Linked DNA regions of Homo sapiens. The protein of the gene in region 6 interacts with the protein of the main gene of each other region in a pairwise test. Each region holds a gene or a part of one and is shown on either strand. Other genes may lie near its edges.

Evidence for each region.
Region 1: the proteins of HUNK (region 6) and USP8 interact in a two-hybrid assay, tested with the Homo sapiens proteins (one large-scale study listed by BioGRID and IntAct).
Region 2: the proteins of HUNK (region 6) and CTR9 interact in a two-hybrid assay, tested with the Homo sapiens proteins (one large-scale study listed by BioGRID and IntAct).
Region 3: the proteins of HUNK (region 6) and PITHD1 interact in a two-hybrid assay, tested with the Homo sapiens proteins (one large-scale study listed by BioGRID and IntAct).
Region 4: the proteins of HUNK (region 6) and AKAP8L interact in a two-hybrid assay, tested with the Homo sapiens proteins (one large-scale study listed by BioGRID and IntAct).
Region 5: the proteins of HUNK (region 6) and LURAP1 interact in a two-hybrid assay, tested with the Homo sapiens proteins (one large-scale study listed by BioGRID and IntAct).

Annotation. Positions count from the first base shown.
Region 1 is NC_000015.10:50,430,905-50,434,404, reverse strand, and holds part of USP8 (ubiquitin carboxyl-terminal hydrolase 8), read right to left. Parts: intron 1-3,500. UniProt on the Homo sapiens protein: Hydrolase that can remove conjugated ubiquitin from proteins and therefore plays an important regulatory role at the level of protein turnover by preventing degradation. Converts both 'Lys-48' an 'Lys-63'-linked ubiquitin chains.
Region 2 is NC_000011.10:10,764,746-10,768,245, reverse strand, and holds part of CTR9 (RNA polymerase-associated protein CTR9 homolog), read right to left. Parts: intron 1,845-3,500; coding exon 1,756-1,844; intron 441-1,755; coding exon 255-440; intron 173-254; coding exon 85-172; intron 1-84. UniProt on the Homo sapiens protein: Component of the PAF1 complex (PAF1C) which has multiple functions during transcription by RNA polymerase II and is implicated in regulation of development and maintenance of embryonic stem cell pluripotency.
Region 3 is NC_000001.11:23,784,918-23,788,417, forward strand, and holds the end of PITHD1 (PITH domain-containing protein 1), read left to right. Parts: intron 1-757; coding exon 758-862; intron 863-1,397; coding exon 1,398-1,506; intron 1,507-2,357; coding exon 2,358-2,459; 3' UTR 2,460-3,315; downstream 3,316-3,500. UniProt on the Homo sapiens protein: Promotes megakaryocyte differentiation by up-regulating RUNX1 expression.
Region 4 is NC_000019.10:15,398,489-15,401,988, reverse strand, and holds part of AKAP8L (A-kinase anchor protein 8-like), read left to right. Parts: intron 1-385; coding exon 386-839; intron 840-945; coding exon 946-1,042; intron 1,043-1,124; coding exon 1,125-1,195; intron 1,196-1,630; coding exon 1,631-1,694; intron 1,695-2,578; coding exon 2,579-2,687; intron 2,688-3,222; exon of another isoform or gene 3,223-3,359; intron 3,360-3,500. UniProt on the Homo sapiens protein: Could play a role in constitutive transport element (CTE)-mediated gene expression by association with DHX9. Increases CTE-dependent nuclear unspliced mRNA export.
Region 5 is NC_000001.11:46,213,334-46,216,833, forward strand, and holds part of LURAP1 (leucine rich adaptor protein 1), read left to right. Parts: intron 1-3,500. UniProt on the Homo sapiens protein: Acts as an activator of the canonical NF-kappa-B pathway and drive the production of pro-inflammatory cytokines. Promotes the antigen (Ag)-presenting and priming function of dendritic cells via the canonical NF-kappa-B pathway.
Region 6 is NC_000021.9:31,879,520-31,883,019, reverse strand, and holds part of HUNK (hormonally up-regulated neu tumor-associated kinase), read right to left. Parts: intron 1-3,500.

The DNA.
Region 1 (3,500 bases), on a different chromosome or scaffold from region 6:
GCAGCCGGGCGTGGTGGCTCAGGCCTGTAATCCTAGCACTTCGGGAGGCTGAGGCAGGTGGACTGCTTGAGGTCGGGAGTTTGAGACCAGCCTGGCCAACATGGTGAAACCTCATCTCTACTAAAAATACAAAAATTAGCCGGACGTGGTGGCGCACACCTGTAATCCCAGCTATTCAGGAGGCTGAGGCAGAAAAATCGCTTGAACCCAGGAGGTGAAGATTGCAGTGAGCGGAGTCTGGGCGACAGAGCAAGACTCTGTCTTTTAAAACAAAACAAAACAAAACAAAACAAAACAAAAAACCTTATGCTTCAAGAAGGATTGCAAGTGAAAAAAAAATAACTAAGTATATGCAAGAAAAATTAACATGCTTCTAACAACAAAAAATAAAAATTCTTAAGATGTGTAAACCTGACAAAGAACTTCAGCCTTAGTCAAACAGCAGTGCTCCAAAAGTGAAACCCAAAAGTGTTGAAAATGAGTTAACAAAGAGAAAATGCAGCCGTGCACAGTGGCTCACGCCTGTAATCCCAACACTTTGGGAGGCCAAGGCGGGCGGATCACGAGGTCAGGAGATCAAGACCATCCTGGCTAACACGGTGAAACCCCGTCTCTACTAAAAAGACAAAAAATTAGCCGGGCACGGTGGCGGGCACCTGTAGTCCCAGCTACTCAGGAGGCTGAGGCAGGAGAATGGCACGAACCTGGGAGGTGGAGCTTGCAGTGAGCTGAGATCGCGCCACTGCACTGCAGCCTGGGCAACAGAGACTCCATCTCAAAAAAAAATAAATAAATAAAGAGAAAATGTTCTTTCTCTGACATCCTTCTGCTCCTTTCTAAGACAAAGAGTAGGGATTTGATGACTGGAACCACAAAGTGAAGACTAAAAGGTAAAAAGTGAAAAATGAGGTTTGCAGTCATTCAAACTGGTCCTGATTTTAAGCAGGGATTCACACCAGCCACTCCTAAGGTCTTTGGCAATATTGAAAGGAAAGCAAAAGTTGTCTTTGTTGGTCACCCACCATCTCTCTCTATTTCTGCCCTTAGGCAGCAACAATACTCAACATAAGTATCTTCTCGCTGTCTTAAATCTCATAATCCACTCTACACTCGTTCTGTATAAGGTGCCACAAACAACTAAGTATTGATTAAATAACTTTTTTTTTTTTTGGAGACGGAGTCTCACTCTGTCGCCCAAGCTGGAGTGCAGTGGCATGAACTTGGCTCACTGCAACCTCCACTTCCCAGATTCAAGCAGCCTCAGCCTCCCAAGTAACTGAGATTACAGGCGCCCCGCCACCATGCCCCACTAATTTTTGTATTTTAGTAGAGACAGGGTTTCTCCATGTTGGCCAGGCTGGTCTCGAACTCCTGACCTCAGGTGATCCGCCCGCCTCGGCCTCCCAAAGTGGTGGGATTACAGGCGTGAGCCATCGTGCCCGGCCAATGAAATAACATTTTAAAGTAATCCTCAAGTATTAAGAAGGCTCAACCCTCTCAAGATTTAATCACTGCTAAAATGTATGGTATTTTCTGAGCAACTACTATGTCTCTAGCACTGTGCTAAATGCTTGAGGGCAGTGTTTTTAAAATCCATTAGAAGGTCATGATCAGCATTAAAAAAATAGCAAACATCAGACTATGTCACACATAGTAAGGTTAGGTACTGCTTCGTAAAATTGTTTCAGTTATGTACATGTGTATATGATATAACACTGGATGAAAATGTAAAATGTATTTCTTAATACAGGTGACAATTTTAAAAAAAGTATGAAAGTCTCACACTACAGCAATGTAACTCCAAGTATGGTCCAATGACCAGTGCTGATTGGGGAACTGTTTGTTATCAGTTTGTGATAAAATAAGAAGTTTGTGACAGAATGTAGATCAATTAAGCACACTGACCTTTTTAAAGTAGCAGCAAGACTTTCTCCATGCAAAAAGCAGTGCACTGACTGGGCGTGGTGCCTCACAGCTGTAATCCCAACACTCTGGGAGACTGAGGTGGGAGGACTGCTTGAGCCCAGGAGTTCAAGAACAGATATTTATGTTGAGTATTGTTGTTGCCTAAAGGGCAGAGATAGGGAGAAATGGTAGGTAGCCAACAAAGTGGGCAACAAAGTAAAGACAAAAAATTTTACAAAAAATTTAAAAATTAGCTGGGCGTAGTGGTGCACATCTGAGGTCTCAGCTACAAGAAGAAACAAACTTAAGTTCCATCTCTTCCATCCTTTATGGTCCCAGTTCTTGGAATTTGTTTCTTCATGTGAATCCTACAATGCTTGTGATCTATATCATTCCTTAAATACAGTAATGGGATCAACAGACAATTACTATAAGGCTTTAAAATCCTCATACACACGCAGTGCTCATGATGATGTGATGAGAGAGAGAACCTGGCCTTGAGGACAGAATTTAGCTAAGAACAGGGTAAGAAAGGAGGACATCTGGCTGGGCATGGTGGCTGACACCTGTAATCCCAGCACTTTGGGAGGCTGAGGCAGGCAGATCACCTGAGGTCAGAAGTTCAAGACCAGCCTGACCAATATGGAGAAACCCCGTCTCTACTAAAAATACCAAATTAGCTGGGCATGGTGGTGGACGCCTGTAATTCCACCTACTCAGGAGGCTGAGGCAGGAGAATCTCTTGAACCCAGGGGGCAGAGGTTGCAGTGAGCCAAGATCGCACCACTGCACTCCAGCCTGGGCAACAAGAGTGAAACTCCATCTCGGAAAAAATAGTAATAATAAGGAATATTACAGAAGTTATTGGGAAATAATCAATCGGATAGAGGGAAAATGTTGACATGTCTTTGGATCCCTGGCACCTATCTCAATAGTCCTCACATAGTCACCACTTTAATAAATGTTTCTCCCTGTCAGCTGAATTTAACTAAAAGGAAAAAAAAATGTTGACTAACAAGAATAACTAAATTATATTATGTAGGAGATGGAGTCACATTATGGAAGACTTTGGAAGCCATCCAGAATTCTTTATATTTGATTCAGCAGGCAATAAAAGCCAGTTCCTGATGGGAAAAATATTATCTCAAGATGGTCAAATTAGGGATATGTAAGTAAGATTGAAAGGAGATGAGAACAAGGGAATGATACTATGGAAAAGAGTAACTACAAGGTCACTGCAGAAAAGAACACAAAATGGTAGAAACATGCTTTGGTAACTGGTTGATCGAAACAGTATTTTCTCTTGCTTACACACACACACACACACACACACAGAGGCACACACACTGTACCCTGCAAAATATGAAGAGCAGTAGTGCTATTAACAAAAAAAGTAATACTGCAGTTTAAAACTGATCAGTTTACAGCAGCGTTTCTCAACCTTGCCATCACTCACATTTTGGACCAGATAAACATTTGTTGTGAGAGGCTGCTCTGTGCAATGTGCACTGCAGGATGTTTAGCAGCATCCCTAACCTCTACTAGACGCCAGTTTACTATCATCCTTCCCTTCCAGTTGTAACAACCAAAACTGT
Region 2 (3,500 bases), on a different chromosome or scaffold from region 6:
TAAGAAAAATTCTGATTTACAAACATTCCTCTGAAAGTATTCATTTGAAACAAATTGTTATGGGTACTCAAGTCTTATAATCACCTATGCCATTGGCAGCATACAGATTCTTTGCATCATTTCTGAGTACTTGTTTGTAGATGGCCAGAGCACGATCTTGATGACGCTTTTCCTATAGAAACAAGTGCTCTTAAAAAAGATTCAAACGAGAATGTAGAGTATCAGTTTTGTTTAAAAGGACAAAAAGAGATTACCTTTTCTCGATCTCGGGTGGGCTGATGTAAAGTTTGGAGCCACACGTTGCCAAGGGCTAGCATAGAATAGGTATCACTCTGTGTGGATGGCTGTTTTAATATCCTCTCAAACTTCTTCTGCCCAGGACCCCATTCTTGTTTTGCCAAATGAAGATTGCCAATCAAAGACCAAGCATCTGGATGATCCTGAAACATACATACATGAAGAAGGAAAATCTGCAGTTTAGTTTGACAGAGATCAATCATCTTCCCACAATAGCTGATTACTGAAGAGGTTTACAAACTATATTACAACAGTGGTTTTCTTTCTTTTCTTTCTTTCTTTTTTTTTTTGCATGGCAATCCAAATTTATCGAACTACTAATGCTAAAGCTAAGTTATACAAAATTGCACCACTTTAATTAATGCTTTCAGTTTACATTTGGCCACCTCAAAGTAGTTGTAACATTAGGTTGGTCAATTTAAATACTGTGGCTCCCTGTTGGATAGACACACAATCTTTACATCCAGACATAAATGCATACAAAGCAACAAGGCACTGTTAAATAAAACAGCAATAGTTACTGCAAATTAGGCCTTGTGACCAATTACATATGATTAAAATTAGTTCCCCACATTCACATCCACAGTACTTGTCCACCATTTAAAATCTCAACCAAAACGTTACAAACGTGGAACCATCACTAACAGGCAAAAATACTAAACTATATTTGGTATTGCAAATACCCTTAGGCATGAGCAAGCATGGGATTCACAGTGAGAATCTACAGCTGCAGAAGCCTGAAAATGATTTACAAAAATTGTTAAATCATTAAAAAATTGTTTGAAAATATACACTTCTTGTTGTAGACCCCCACATGAGTGGTTTTCAAACTGAGTTGATACCCATTAGTAAGTTGTAAAATCCATTTAGTTAGTCTTTAGTTATCTGCATAGTAAATGCAACAGAATGGAATAAAGTAAAAATATCAGTGTATCGCCCATTGGCAAAAGCAAATAATGATTTGTGAAACTTTCATTTCAGTTGTTTGTCTATATATACATTTGTGTGTACTAGGCTATGATGTGAAATCTATTTCTTTTTGTGGGCCCTCAAAACGTTTAGATGACCATAGCTATGGTTCCATACAAAATCCTAAGATACTATGCTATAAAGTTCTCTCATATGGTACTAACTAAACTGAAAGTGAAGTAAACTAGTGAGAGTAAAAAACACAGGAGTCAGGTCACATTTGTTGAAGTGGAGTGAAAGGATGGGATGGGGGAAGGGAAGAAGGAAAAAGGAAGACAATAGGAAAGATTTACATAAAAAAACATGGTCCCTATTTATAACATGATTAATAATGCAACCTAGTACATTTTTAGTATCTAACAAGTAAATGAAAACAAAACAAAAAATGACAAAACCAGGAAGATGTAGCCATTAAAAGGAAAAACTGATTTATGGGGAAGGAAAAGTGAAAATAATTATTTCTCAAACCTAAGAGTTAATATTACCAACCTGATTAATCTGAAGAGCTTCCTTAAACCAATCTGAAGCCTCATAAAAGTTTCCCTTATCTCTAGCCATGGCTCCTAGGCGCAAATAGCCTGAAAACATATTTAAAAGTTTTTATATCCCAAATATTAGCTATAAAGGATCATAATTTTAAAGTCATACTTTTGAAACAATTTTTTTTCATTAATACCGCCATAAAAGGAACAGAAAAGTCCCAAAGGTGAAAAAATATCAATCATCCATCCAACAAGTTAAAGAATAATTTTGTCACCATCTAGACTTACTGTTTGAAATCTAAGACTTACCTCTGCCACTCCACTCCCAATGCTAGTTCCCTGGTCCAAGTCCTTATCTCAAGCTAAGTTATTTTAAAAGCTTGGAACCGGCCTGTTTCTAATTTCTCTCCAATGCACACCATTGTCAGTTACCTTTTTTTAAAAAAAGCTGCTTGTAATACGGCAAAACAGTGAAAGTCTGATGAATAGGTATTACTACTTAGAAGATCTGGGCTCTAACTGGGGTTCTTCCATTAATTAATAGTGAAGTGCTACACAAATGTAAGTTGTTGTTTTCTCTAGGAAATGTCACTTCTCTCAGGAAACCAATAATGGTTCACTACTGCCTATCAAATCAATTCAAATTCAGTCTGGCATTCAACTGAAATCTTGCTTATTTTAAATCACTTTTGCATCCATAACAGCATGATAGGCACCAAGTTAATAGCTCCTGATATGCCGGGCACGGTGGCTCACGCCTATAATCCCAGCACTTTGGGAGGCCATGGTGGATGGATCACCTGAAGTCAGGAGTTCTAGACCAGTCTGACCAACGTAGCAAAACCCCACCTCTACTAAAAACACAAAAATTAGTCGGACGTAGTCGTGGGCCCCTGTAATCCCAATTACTCGGGAGGCTGAGGCAGGAGAATCACTCCAACCCGGGAGGCAGAGGTTGCAGTGAGCCGAGATTGTGCCACTGCACTCCAGCCTGGGTGACAGAGCAAGACTCCATCTTAAAAACAAAACAAAACAAAAAAACAAAAAACCTCCTGATTTACTAGAGTCAAAACATCATGCTTTAGGTTCTTTTTAAAGAAAGTACAAAAACAAACAAAAAAACCCTCATACACACAAATAAAATTAAGTACACTATGTATATTATTATTATTTAAAATATAAAGATGGGGTCTTGCTACTGGGGTTGTTTAGGTTGGTCTTGAACTCCTGGACTCAAGCGATCCCGCTGCAGTGGCCTCCCAAAGTACTGGGATTCCAGGCATGAGCCACCATGCCAGGCCTAAATTATTTTTTAATTAAAAACTTTCCTTATTTTATAACGTATAGGTTGCGAAACTCAAATTAGGACATTTTAGCAATAATTGTTTAAAGGAAAAGCACTTTTCTTCCTCACTATTATAAACATTGTAAGAATGTTCATATGAAATCAAAGAAGGATGTTTCAAAGGTAAATGCATTATCAGATATGCCAAGGAGTTGTTAAAAGCCTAACAAAGGTAGCTGACCCACTGAAGATAACCTAGTCATTGAAATACGGTCCAATTGGTTTTAGTTGCTTATTTCTAGCACAAATGTAAGTAAAGCTGCACCTTTGTTTTAAGGCCACAAATTTGCCCTGGAGAAATGGGGACATTAGAACCTTAAACAATTTTTACTATCAATTCTAAATTTTTTTCAGGCTAAATTTTTGCTGCTCTTGTGGGAATGAACGGATTTCATTACATAAAGAAG
Region 3 (3,500 bases), on a different chromosome or scaffold from region 6:
ACAAAAAAATGCTTGAGCATTGGGTTACCTGATCTTTTATCTCTTAACTGTGTGTAATATGTTTCTGCCAAAGTATGTATTTTTCCCATGAGTAAGCTGTTTTATTTAATAACATCCTCAGTTTGGTCTGAATGTGCTGAGTTGTTTATTTTCTCCATGCATTTGCTGCATGTGACCTAGTTTGAGCCGTCTCTTTGTGTATTGCTTCTCATGTGATATTAACCCACTCAAAGATGCCATGGGGTTATGTTGCAGATCTCAGCTCTTTTTTTGTTGGATTAAAGATATTTGTAGGCTAGACGCGGTGGCTCATGCCTGTAATTCCAGCACTTTCGGAGACCGACGTAGGCGGATCACCTGAGGTTGGGAGTTAGAGACCAGCATTGCCAACATGGTGAAACCCTGTCTTTACTAAAAGTACCAAAATTTGCCGGGCATGGTGGCGTACGCCTGTAGTCCCAGCTACTCAGGAGGCTGAGGCATGAGAGTCACTTGAACCTGGGAGGTGGAGGTTGCAGTGAGCTGAGATTGTACCATTGCACTCCAGCCTGGGTGACACAGTGAGACTCTGTCTCAAAAAAAAAAAAAAAAAAGATATTTGGAGATACTTGTATAAAATGTCATTTCTAAAATATGACCCCCAAATTCAGTCTCCTATTGATAGAACCAAAGCCATTTAAGCAGTCAGTAGAAAATTTTGAAAACCTGAAACGTGATAATGCACATTTCTTGACTTTTCTTTCCTTTCCTTTCTCAGGTACAAGAATATTCCACAGATGTCCTTTGATGATACAGAAAGGGAGCCAGATCAGACCTTTAGTCTGAACCGGGATCTTACAGGAGAATTAGAGTATGCTACAAAGTAAGCACTGGGCCTGTCTTCCATTCTCTATGGCTTCTTATAGGGCTTGCCATTTATTTTTGGCCAGTCTCCTGCTCTCTTAGCATTGGAAATGAGTTAAAACAGTGGAGGAGACTTGATCTTTGGCTTGGTCAGTTTTTGGCAGAGATTCAGTGCAAGCCACAGACTTGTTAACTTGCAAGCAATTGGCAGATCTGAATGAACTCCTAGGGTGGTTTTAGGAAAGATGTGTCTCCCATTAGTTTAGGTTAACACTAAATGTGCTTTAGAATCCCTGCTGGGTTATGCAGCATTTCTCATTCCTGTTCCTTGAGGGCAGGAGCAGTGTTTATCCCTACTGCCTTGGACAGGATCTGGCAGGTGCTCAGTAAATGGTCATTGAATTAATTGCCTGTCCAAAGGAGAAGGAAGAACTCAGGAGCTCTGACTTTGCCTGGCTTTTACAAGCTGGAGCTGAATTGTTGTTTCACATGGTGGTGAGATACTCATTGAACTATAATTCATACCTTCTTTCCCTATTCCTGTCATCCTCTAGAATTTCTCGTTTTTCAAATGTCTATCATCTCTCAATTCATATTTCAAAAAACTTCGGAGCAGATACGACAAAGGTCTTTTATATTGGCCTGAGAGGAGAGTGGACTGAGGTAAGATGGGGTTGGAAAGGTTTTCCCCTCATGTCTACATATCTGCACACTGTGGTGATGGGAGCTTCCAGGGAAGGGAAAAGAGCAAGTGTCATAATTACTCCCAGTTTATTATTTTTCTTGGTTTTATCAGTATAAACTTTTCGTCTCATTTGAGAAACTACAGGTATTTTTAAGGGGGTTGAAACTGTTATTTTTATATAAATAATATATATAATATATATATATATATCTCAGCTCACTGCGACCTCCGCCTCCCAGGTTCAAGTGATTCTCCTGCCTCAGCCCCCCAAGTAGCTGGGATTACAGGTGCCCACTCCCACGCCTGGCTAATTTTTTTGTATTTTTAGTAGAGACAGGGTTTCACCATGTTGGCCAGGCTGGTCTCGAACTCCTGACCTCAGGTGATCTGCCCATCTCAGCCTCCCAAAATGTTGGGATTACAGGTGTGAGCCACCTTGCCCAGCCTGAAATTGTCATTTATATTAATTCACAGTTTTCTACTTTCAAATGCTTTCATTGAGTATTTTTGATAATCTTTTCTATTCATGAACCAGGGATAAGATAATACCATAGACAAGTTCCTATTCTCATGGTACCCCCATTATAGTAGGGAGACTGAATCTTCAAAGTTACAGGGTGAATCAATGATAATGATCTTTGCAGCTTTCTGGAGTTAAAAAGTATCAAAATTGGGAGATATTAGATGATGACATCTAAGTATTAAAATAAGGAGATATTAAATGATGACTCCTAGAAATGAACCTGAATAAGGACTACCGCAATGTGTGTGGTGTGGGAAAGGACAGTTCTTTTAATGGCTGGCTGACCCAGCCTCAATTTTCTTGCAGCTTCGCCGACACGAGGTGACCATCTGCAATTACGAAGCATCTGCCAACCCAGCAGACCATAGGGTCCATCAGGTTACCCCACAGACACACTTTATTTCCTAAGGGCTGGCCAAGGCTCCCATAGAGGCGCTGTGTCAGTGAAGATGTACGACTACCTGTTGGGAAGGACAAAGGGATGAGGCTCCAGAGAGAGTTGGCTGCCACAGCCTCTGCCAAGCTTTGTCTTTGGGGCTTGCTGCAGAAACCTGGCCTACGGAAGATACGACACCACTGGGAGGGTTGTGTAGGTGCCAGGGGACCATCGTGGTTCTCTAGGGCGCTGTGGAAATTGGGTCTTGGGCTGGGTGGCATCTGGCAGTCATGGGTAACACTTGCTTTTCCAGTTAATGTGGCCATGTGATTCCAAGTGTCATGTTGCTTTGTGGCAAGATTGTTGTGTGACTTGTTTTTTTGTTTTTGTTTTTGTTTTTTTAAAGGAAACTATTTGTGGGCTATAGGAAACTTTCTGATGCCTCCGGATTGTGTTAGTAGTAGCCATCAGGAGGGTCTCCAACTAAAACACTTGTTCCTGCTTGCTCCTTTCCCCTCTCATTGTTCAGCATTCTTGTCAAGTTGCCCAGCTTGGAGTTGTCTGTCACGCACATGTGTCCTGTGGTTATAGCTAGAAGGACAGGAGTCTCCTGCTGATGCGTGATAGCTTAAGCTTGGGGAGAAGGTCTTTTCCACTGCCTAGCTAAGCAGTCTGGGGAGAGCATGGGGATCATTTCTATGTGTGTGGGTAATCTGGTCAGTAAGATTGAGACTTAGTTAAGATTCCCCTTGGAAATTCCTTAATGTTTATTAGCTTCTAACTAGTGTTGTAAGTCCGATGCCAGAATTTGGAGATTTGAGTTCTTCTTTTCATGGCTTTTATTCACTGTGACTAATAAGCTTCCTAATAAATCCTTGCCAGACTTAATGTTTGTATTTTCTTTTGAGTTCTTGATAGCCACTGATGCAACTTTCATTTCATGGGGAACTGTACTGAACTTTGAAATTTTTTGTTGTTGTTTTGGACTAGGTAGATTATAGGAAGTGCCACAATTAAATCAAGACTGGAGCCGGGCGCGGTGGCTCACGCCTGTAATCCCAGCACTTTGGGAG
Region 4 (3,500 bases), on a different chromosome or scaffold from region 6:
GGGTGCTGGGGTGCTCAGCCTTGCCCTGTGAGGAGCAGCCTTGGGCGTTGCAGCTCCCACAGATGGTGTACATGTTCCCAAAGGGCTGTGGAGCAGCTCTGCCCCTTGTTGAGACTCACTGGACTAGAGCCTCCACCCCAGTTATCAGTCCTTCAGTCCTTCTTAGGGTCCCCAAGCCAGTGTGTGGCTACATTCAAGTTTGGGGCAGTGGTGCCCCTATATCAGCTGAGAGGCTGGAACTCTTTAATCGGCATTTCTGAACATTGAGCCTCCCAACCAGGGCAGGGTGGGTGCTGGACTGGGAGATTGGGGAGGGCAGGAGCAGTTGCCTGGAGGTGAGGGATCCTGAGGGGCTCCACCTGATGCTCACCCCATGCCTCTGCAGGTATGACTCTTATGAGTCCTGCGACTCGAGGGCCGTCCTGAGTGAGCGCGACCTGTACCGGTCAGGCTATGACTACAGCGAGCTTGACCCTGAGATGGAAATGGCCTATGAGGGCCAATACGATGCCTACCGCGACCAGTTCCGCATGCGTGGCAACGACACCTTCGGTCCCAGGGCACAGGGCTGGGCCCGGGATGCCCGGAGCGGCCGGCCAATGGCCTCAGGCTATGGGCGCATGTGGGAAGACCCCATGGGGGCCCGGGGCCAGTGCATGTCTGGTGCCTCTCGGCTGCCCTCCCTCTTCTCCCAGAACATCATCCCCGAGTACGGCATGTTCCAGGGCATGCGAGGTGGGGGCGCCTTCCCGGGCGGCTCCCGCTTTGGTTTCGGGTTTGGCAATGGCATGAAGCAGATGAGGCGGACCTGGAAGACCTGGACCACAGCCGACTTCCGAGTGAGTGGAGGCAGCCTTCCCCTCTGGGAAGCTTAGTTCCCACTGGGGCGGAGCTAAGGGCCGGGTGCCATGCACCCTGACACGGCTTCCCCCCCTTATGACCCAGACCAAGAAGAAGAAGAGAAAGCAGGGCGGCAGTCCTGATGAGCCAGATAGCAAAGCCACCCGCACGGACTGCTCGGACAACAGCGACTCAGACAATGGTGAGCCCACTAGGTGGTACTGGGCGGCTGCCCCCTGCCTCTGGGAACTCCTGGGTTGAGCTTACCTCCTTTTCCCTTTCAGATGAGGGCACCGAGGGGGAAGCCACAGAGGGCCTTGAAGGCACCGAGGCTGTGGAGAAGGGCTCCAGAGTGGTAAGTGGCTCTGGCTGGGCATTTTCTGTCTGCAGGCAGGGCGAGCTGGCCTAAAGAGTGGTGCTCTCCCTGGGGGCCAGAGGCAATGCTGTGTCAGCTCTGCGTGCATGGTGACCAGCATGGGGAGGCAGTGTGGTCTGGCAGAAAGCACAGGCTGCCTAGCTGGAGGCACAGTTTCCTTGTTGGAAAATGGGATGAGCCCCTGTGCACCAGGTAGTGGGAGGATGTGAGGTTTCTGGCACATAGCCGGGCCTTGTCATTTAAAGCCATTGTAAATAACTGGGCTACTCTGGGCCACCCTGCCTATAGGATAGCCCTGCTCTGTCTATGGAGCAAGCAGCTGTTTTACTATATACCGTTGCTCTAATAAACTTGGTTTCTTTTAAAAAAAAAAAAAAAGGCACCTGTTTTAAAGTTGGAATTTGAAATTGTTAGGACGGAGAGGATGAGGAGGGAAAAGAGGATGGGAGAGAAGAAGGCAAAGAGGATCCAGAGAAGGGTGAGTTTTCCTGGGGTGCCTGGTGCTAGGGCGGCTCTTCCAGGGGCTCACAGTGGGAGGGACCCAGCTGAGGGCAGGGTTGCGGCAGACATGCGGCCAGTTGGGGACCTCCCTTGTGGGCCCGAGTGTGTGCTGGCAGGGGGCTTTCTTTTCGCCGCCTCCACCCCCTTCCCACTCTTCCTCCTCCTTCCCAGGCGGAGGCTGTGGATGGTGGTGACCCCTGCCTAGCACACTGGTTTTGCCTTCAGATGGGGGCAGCTAGTAAAAGTGTGGGGAACCCCAGGCACGCCCCCTGCCCTCGGTCCCTCAGTAACGCGCAGTTCCAAGTCCTCAGTGGCTGGTGTCCGATCTGGGACCCTCGGTGCAGTTTTTACGGCTCTGGTGTGCGTATCCTCTCCCTTAGCACCTCTCCAGCCCCTGTTGGGATTCCGTGTCCCCCCACCTGAGTGATGAGCGCCAGCAGGTACCTAACAGCAAATCCAGCGTCAGCCCACTGTTGCCGCGGTGCCCGGTTGGGGGTGGGCAGGGCCATGTGAGCAGCCTCCCTGCATCCCACCACCTGGCCCCTCTGAACATGTGCCAGTGTCCCCACAAAGATACCCCCTCTTTGCTTTCCAGCCTCCTCCTGGCCCACTGCACAGAGAGCATGGGTGTCCTGGAGAGTGGAGGGGTCATCGCCTGGCCCCCACTCCTTGGGGCCTAGGCCAAACCCACTCCCTGCACAGCCCAGGATACCCAGCCCTGCTCATGGCCAGAGGCCTTGCTTGGACAGCTATTCTCGATGGACCCTCTGGAGTGGACAGTGGGTGATTCAGCCAGAGGCCGCAGGGCCTGCCCTGTCCTGGCAGAGCCAAATTGGTGACAGTGCCCATCTGCTCCCACAGGGGCCCTAACCACCCAGGATGAAAATGGCCAGACCAAGCGCAAGTTGCAGGCAGGCAAGAAGAGTCAGGACAAGCAGAAAAAGCGGCAGCGAGACCGCATGGTGGAAAGGTAACCAGCTTCCCTCCACCCCTCTGCCTCTGCCTCGCTGTGGGGCTGCCGCCAGGAGAGCAGGGCCATAGCTCTGCCAGCTCGCCGCCCTCTGGCCTCCCTTGGGAGCCGCCACCTGCTCGGCCGTGCATGGACCCTGCTTCCCGCCAGGCCCAGCTCCCAAGGCCTGACTCATCCCCTGCCCCTCTGCGGCCGCCTGGCGACCGCTGGCGTCTGTGGGCCGAGACCTGACACCGCTCGGCACCGTTGCTCAGAAGCTCTGGCGCTAGGTCACTCGGCGCACGAACCCCAAGGTGCACTGGGGGCCTGATGCCCCTGAGGGAGGGGGCCAGCTCATCAGAGACTCAAGGTCCAAGGCGCCTGTGCCGCCCCAGCTAGCTGCCAAGAGGCCACCGCCGTGCCCAGGAGAGATGGCAGCACCTGTGGGCTGTGGCAGCCTCGGGCCTGCCTTCTGCCCTGCCCGCCGGCCCTGTCAGGCCGGGCCTGTCTGCGGCTGAGCCCTTCACGCCCCTTGGTCGGGTCTGTCTGCCCTCAGGGCTCCCGCACTGGCGCTTGCCTCCTCCGCCTCAGACTCTTGCTCTTGCTGGACCTTCCTCAGCCTCGCCGGCGCCCGGCCCCTGGGCTCTCCAGACAAAGCTGACCCCGTGGCCCAGATAAGGACGTCCGGCAGAGGTAGGGACCCGCCCCGAGGTCTCGGTGGCGGCTGGCCTCCTCCGCCCCTTGCCACGGCGGCCTGCTCCGGCCCAGGCCCCAGACCCCGGGCTTCTACTGTGGACACCAGGCCCAGACAGAGCACCTCGCCCAGGTGACTCC
Region 5 (3,500 bases), on a different chromosome or scaffold from region 6:
GACATTTTGTTTTCCATATTTTAAAAAGTATATAAATTTTTTAAAATGTCATCTAGTTTGTGCATTTACCCTGTCATATTTGCACGGCAGTAAAACCTCCTGCTGGTGTATTTCTCTAAGCATATCCCCATTGTTACGTGACAAATGACTTTATATATGGAGAATAGAACAGAAGGTCTCTAGATTAAAAGACACTGAGCATAGTTGAGGACAAGAGGGACTAAATAAAAATACACTAAATACGGCCAGGCACAATGGCTTACGCCTGTAATCACAGCACTCTGGGAGGCTGAGGTGAGGAGTTTGAGCCTGGGAGTTTGAGGCTACAGTGAGCTATGATCATGCCACTGCACTCCAGCCTGGACAACGTAGCGAGACTTTGTCTCTACAAAAACTTTAAAAAGTACTAAATATCATGAAATACCTCTCCAAGCCTTTACCCCTACTTGGCTCCTAGGATACTGACAGCCTTGCTTACGTTATACTCTCTAGAGTGGTATAATATGGGGAATATGATTAACTCAAGAAAAAAAAAAAAGATACAGACTTTAGACCTCCAATTAAACAGCCCAATCAGATCATCCTGTAGTGAGGCTCAGAGTTGGCAAGCTTCATACATACACGGTTTCTAGTCATTGTAGAGATCCACTCTGAAGGGTGAGCAGCAGTTAAAGATGATAGACATCTGACCCTCTATATAGACCTAAATAAATAGGAAAAAGCAACTTGAGGCCGGGCATGGTGGCTCAGGCCTGTAATCCCAATACTTTGGAAGGCCGAGGCTGGATGATCACTTGAGGTCAGGAATTTGAGACCAGCCTGGCCAACATGATGAAACCCCATCCCTACTGAAAATACAAAAATTAGCTGGTTGTGGTAGCGGGCACCTGTAATCCCAGCTATTCAGAAGGTTGAGGCATGAGAATCGCTTGAACCTGGGAGGTAGAGGTTGCAGTGAGCCGAGATCGTGCCACTGCACTCCAGCCTGGGTGACAGAATGACATTCTGTCTCAAAAAGAAAAAAAAAAAGGAAAAGAAAAAGCAACTTGAATGAAATGGAGATAATACAGAGAGATACGAACTTATAAAAATCATTAAGCATATCCTTAAAGAGATAAAAGATAATACTGTAGCCATGAACAAAAACAAGAAGGTGTAAAAAGGTAAACATTCAGAGAACTAGAAACAGCACTTGGAAATAAACACATCATGGCGGGGAAAAGAAAAAAGAAAAACCAAAGAGTTGATAATAGGCCAGGTGTGGTGGCTCATGCCTGTAATCCCAGCACTTGGGAGGCCAAGGCAGTGGATCACCTGAGGTCAGGAGTTCAATAGCAGCCTGACCAACATGGTGAAACCCCATCTCTACTAAAAATACAAAAATCAGCCAGATGTGGTGGCAGACACCTGTAATTCCAGTTACTTGGGAGCCTGAGTCATGAGAATCACTTGAACCCGAGAGGCAGAGGCTGCAGTGAGCCAAGATGTGCGCCATTGCACTCCAGCCTGGGGGACAAGAGTGAGACTCCATCTCAAAAAAAAAAAAAAAAAAAAGAGGAGTTGATCAAGTTGAAATATTTCAGAAACTAGAGCAAGTATAGAAATAGATGTGACTGGGTGCTGTGGCTCACGCCTGTAATCCCAGCACTTTGAGAGGCCAAGGCAGGTGGATCACAAGGTCAGGAGATTGAAACCATCCTGGCTAACATGGTGAAACCCTGTCTGTACTAAAGATACAAAAAATTAGCCGGGTGTGGTGGTGGGCACCTGTAGTCCCAGCTGCTTGGGAGGCTGAGGCAGGAGAATGGCGTGAACCCGGGAGGTGGAGCTTGCAGTAAGCCAAGATCGCACCATTGCACTCTAGCCTGGGCGACACAACAAAACTCTGTCTCAAAAAAAAAAAAAAAAAAGAGATGCAAGAGTGAAAAAAACAAAAACAAAAACATAGAGGATCATCAGTTCAGGACACCCTCTGTCCAAGTAATAGGATTCCCAGAAAGAACAGAAAAATACTGGAGGATAATCATCAAAGAAATAATTTTAAAAAATCTCCCAGAACTGAAGAACGTCAGTTTCCAGATTGAAAAGGCCCATCAAGTGGCTAACTCAATAGATGAAAATAACCCACACCATGGCAAATTGCTGTAAAAACAGAACACTGGGAACAAAGAGAAGATCCTAAAAGCTTTCAGCAAGAATGGGAAAAGGGTCACATACAAAGGATCAGGGATTGGAATGGCATTAGATTTTTAAAGGCTAACACTGAAAATTAAAAGACATGGAGGCTGGGTGCCATGGCACATGCCTCTAATCCCAGCACTCTGGGAGGCCAAGATGGGCAGATCCCTTGAGCTCAGGAGTTTGAGACCAGCCTGGGCAACATAGTGAGACCCCATCTACAAAAAAAAATTTAAAAATTAGCCAGGTGTAGGTACATGCCTGTAGTCCAGCTACTTAGGAGGCTGAGGCAGGAGGGTTGCTTGAGCTCAGGGGATCAAGGCTGTAGTCAACCATGATTGTGCCACCACTGCACTCCAGCCTGGGCTATAGAGTAAGACCCTGTCTCAAAAATAAAATACGACAATGGAACAATGCCTTAACCCCTGAGGAAGAATTATTTTCAACCTGGAATTCTATATCCTGCCAAACTATCAATAGTGTGAGGAAAGATTAATAACTTTTTAAAAATAATTTCAACTTTTATTTTATCTTTTTTTTTTTTTTTTTTTTTTTGTGACGGAGTCTCGCTGTTGCCCAGGCTGGAGTGCAGTGGCGCGATCTCGGCTCACTGCAGGCTCCGCCCCCCAGGTTCACGCCATTCTCCTGCCTCAACCTCCCGAGTAGCTGAGACTACAGGCGCCCGCCACCTCGCCCAGCTAATTTTTTGTATTTTTAGTAGAGACGGGGTTTCACCGTGTTAGCCAGGATGGTCTCTATCTCCTGACCTCGTGATCCACCCGCCTCGGCCTCCCAAAGTGCTGGGATTACAGGCATGAGCCACCACGCTCGGCCCTATTTTATCTTATTTGAGAGAAATCTCATTCTGTCACCCAGGCTGGGTGCAGTGGCACCACCATGGATCACTGCAGCCTTGACCCCCCAGGCTCAAGCAATCCTCTCACCTCAGCCTCCCGAGGAGCTGGGTCTACAGGCACATACCACCACACCTGACTAATTTTTAAATTTTTTGTAGAGACAGTGTCTCACTCTGTTACCTAGGCTGATCTCAAACTCCTAGACTCAAGTGATCCTCCTCTCTTGGCCTCTCCAAGTGCTGGAATTACAGGCAAGAGCCACCATGCCCAGCCCAACTTTTATTTTAGATTCGGAGGGGGGTACCTGCGCAGGTTTGTTACATGGGTATATCACATGATTCTGAGATTTGGGATACTGTTGAACCCATCACCCAGGAAGTGAGCATAGTACCCAACAAATAATTTTTCAATCCTTGCCCCCACCTCTCTCCCTCCTCCAACAGTCCCCAGTGTCTATCATTACCA
Region 6 (3,500 bases):
TTATGTACTCCCTAAATGTCCATCAACAAGGGATGGTTAAGTCAACATGATACTTCCACACAATGACTACTATGCAATAACTAATTAACATAAAGAGTGAGGCAATTCTGTAGTAGTCATGGGGAAGAATGCTCAAGACATATTGCTAAGTGAAAAAGCAAGATAATGAACAGCATGTACAGTTTAAAAATACATCTGCCCTGGTGGGTGGGAGGGATGGATGAAGAGAAGCTGGTTCATGGGTACAAACATACATAGATAGAAGAACTAAATTCTAATGTCTGTTAGGGTGACTATACTTAGTAGCAATACTTTGTATATTTCAAGGTAACTAGAACAGAGGACTTGATATAATACCAACCCGTGGAAATGAATACTTAGGTGATGGACACGCCGATACTCTGGCTTGATCATTACACACTCCATGCATGGAACACTCACATGTACCCCATAAATATGTAAAATATTATGTATCAATAAAGAAGAAAAATCTGCCCCTAACTACGCATTTACAAATATGTATGTGGGTCTCTATGCATATAGGGTATCTCTGGAGGGATACACAAGGACTAGAAGGAGGAGTGACCTCTCACGAGAAGATCCAGGAACTGAAGAGCCCAGATAAGAAGCAGTTACCTCTCACTGCAAACCCTCTCAGAACCTTTGAATTTCAGACCATGTGTCTGTATTACCAATTCCAAAACTTAACCAAATGCATCTTGAAAACACAAAGATGATTAAAAACCAAAAAGAACCCAGTGATTAGAAGTTGCATAGCTAGGGCACAGTGGCCACCGTAAGAGTGCTAAGAGGATGTTAACAGATGGCTCTACCCTGAGTAGTTTTTTTTGTCCATGAGAATGTCCCAAACTGTTACTCTACTCATCAAAAATCCAAATTCCCACAACTCCTTCAACAACTTTTCCCACCACTCACGAGTGATGGGGGAGGGGGGGTCTCTTCCCAGGAAAGTGCCACCGTCTCTGAAGTAGGCATGCTGGCCCACAACTTGGCCCAACACTCAGTTGCCCCAGAGTTCTCAGGAAAAAACCCATAGAGCATACATATAAAGTGAGCTTTCAATCTTGTAAGTACTGAGAAACACAACAGAGCCCTGATGATTCTAACCTAAGAGAAATGTGAGGCCAGAAAATCCCCCAGCGTGTGGCACATAGAATCTGCTAATGAGATGCCACGCCGGCTGCTCCCTCATTGCAGGGAGAGAGACCACAGTCGAGCAGCAAGGTAGGGCAGGCTGAAGAGAAGCTGGTTCATGGGTACAAACATACATAGATAGAAGGACTAAATGCTAATGTTTGCTACGGGGACTATATTTAGCAGCAATAATTTGTATATTTCTTTGTTGTTGTTGTTGTTGTTGTTGCTGCTGCTGTTGTTATGGAGTTTTTGCTCTTGTTACCCAGGCTGGAGTGCAGTGGCACAATCTCGGCTCACTGCAACCTCCACCTCCTTGGTTCAAGCGACTCTCCTGCCTCAGCCTCCCGAGTAGCTGGGATTACAGGAACACACACTTGGCTAATTTTTTTGTATTTTTAGTAGAGACAGGGTTTCACCATGTTGGCCAGGCTGGTCTCAAACTCCTGACCTCAGGTGATCTGCCTCCCTCGGCCTCCCAAAGTGCTGGGATTACACGCGTGAGCCACCACGCCTGGCCATACTTTGTATATTTCAAGGTAACGAGATGAGAGGACTTGATACCAACACATGGAAATGATGACCACTCATATCCAAAATGCGCATGGAAAAGATGCCCACGTTGTCTACGGTCCATATGGTATGGACTCAGATGAAAAGCCCTGGACTCTGACCCTGTCTCTTTCAGTAAACAGCAAATGCTGGGCTGCACCCCCAGATTCCCCGTCAGTGCTGAAGAACTGACTGCCTCAGCTGCAGGCTATCAGCTGTGAGCTCTCCCCAGGAACCGCCCTCAGCAACTGTCCCGTACGAGGCCATGCCCCTTGCCTGGGCAGCCCCCATCAAGGACTGGCCGATGCGGAAATATAAATCCCAGTCCTCTCAACCCAAGTTGGTCAGCTCTGAAGGGCCAGCTCAGCTCCAGCACTCACCACGGCATGGGCAGGGGCTTTGGCTGAGAGCGGTATTGGAGCCCAGCTTCTCCCTCTGCCCAGTGCTGCTTTGCCCCTTCCCTTGCAGAGGTCAGTTCTGAGAGTAATCCCTAAAAGCACATTCATCTCCTTCCCAAGATCCGCTTGCCACAACCCAATACTGACAGTCTAAAAAGGTGCTGGAGCTTGAACTATGCTCCCCCAAAAGATACCTTCAAGTCCCGTTGGTACCTGTGGATATGATCTTCTTTGAAAATAGGGACTTTGTAGATGTCATCGAGTTAAAATGAGGCAACACTGGATTAGGGTAGACCTACATCCCATGACTGGTGTCCTTATAAAGAGACATAGGAAAAGATTAAGAGACAGAAGAGACACTCAGAGGGAGGAACACTGTGTGAAGACAGACGCAGAGACAGAGCGCTGCAGTCATAAGCCAGAAAATGCCAAAGAGTGCTGGCCACCACCGGAAGCTAGTAAGAGGCAAGGAAGGATTCTCCCTGTGGCTGCAGAGGGAGCATGGCCCTGCCAACACCTTGGTTTTGGATCCTAGCCTCCAGAACTGTGACAGAATAAATTTCTGTTGTTGAAGCCACACAGTGTGTGGTAATTTGTTAGAACCATCCTAGCAAACTCATAGAGAATGTCAGAGAGAAGATCTACTCAGGGCACCCTTCTACGTAATCAAGGCAGGCAAGAACACCAGCAAGCTGGCTGTTACCCCCTCCACCAGGGCTGCTGCAGGCATCTAACAAGAATGTGCACGGGAGGGGCACCCTGAAAAAAACCGTAAAACACTGTAGCACTGGGCTGGTGCTGGTGATGGAGGAGAGGGAACAGCTGTCTCGAATTCACAGAGGCATCCCCCTCCTCGGGGACTATTCAGTCCCTGTGTTTCTAGCTCTTTCCTGCTGGTCATCGTACCACCCAGTGGCACCTCCTATCAGAAAGCGTGAAATTCAATTCAGGTCAGTACTTAGACCAGGGCTGAGTAGAGAAAGAAGTTTCACCCATCAGCTAACATAAGGCCTGGGGATTATCTACGGGTTTCAATTAGCCAAGAGAGCAGGTCTCTCCGTTACCATAAATAATCGACAGAGGGAATATATGTCCCAAGGCAAATGATAACCCTGTGCCCAAGCCTCCTTCCCATGGAGAACACCCCAACCTGTCCCTCTCTTCGGGGGCACATGGCTGCCACTCCCCACCCCTTCTGGGCAGATAAACCCTGGGACAGATGATTGCCGCGCTGACCTCCAATAGCTGGCAGCATGCAGAATTCTATAGTCTCACAGACCTGAGTCGGATTGGTATGCACGGGTAGCTATAGCCGTGACTCAACACCTGCAGAGAAAATGTAGGGTTGTACTCCTCTCCGTGGGCACCGTTTCTGCACTGTTGCGCTGACTCAAA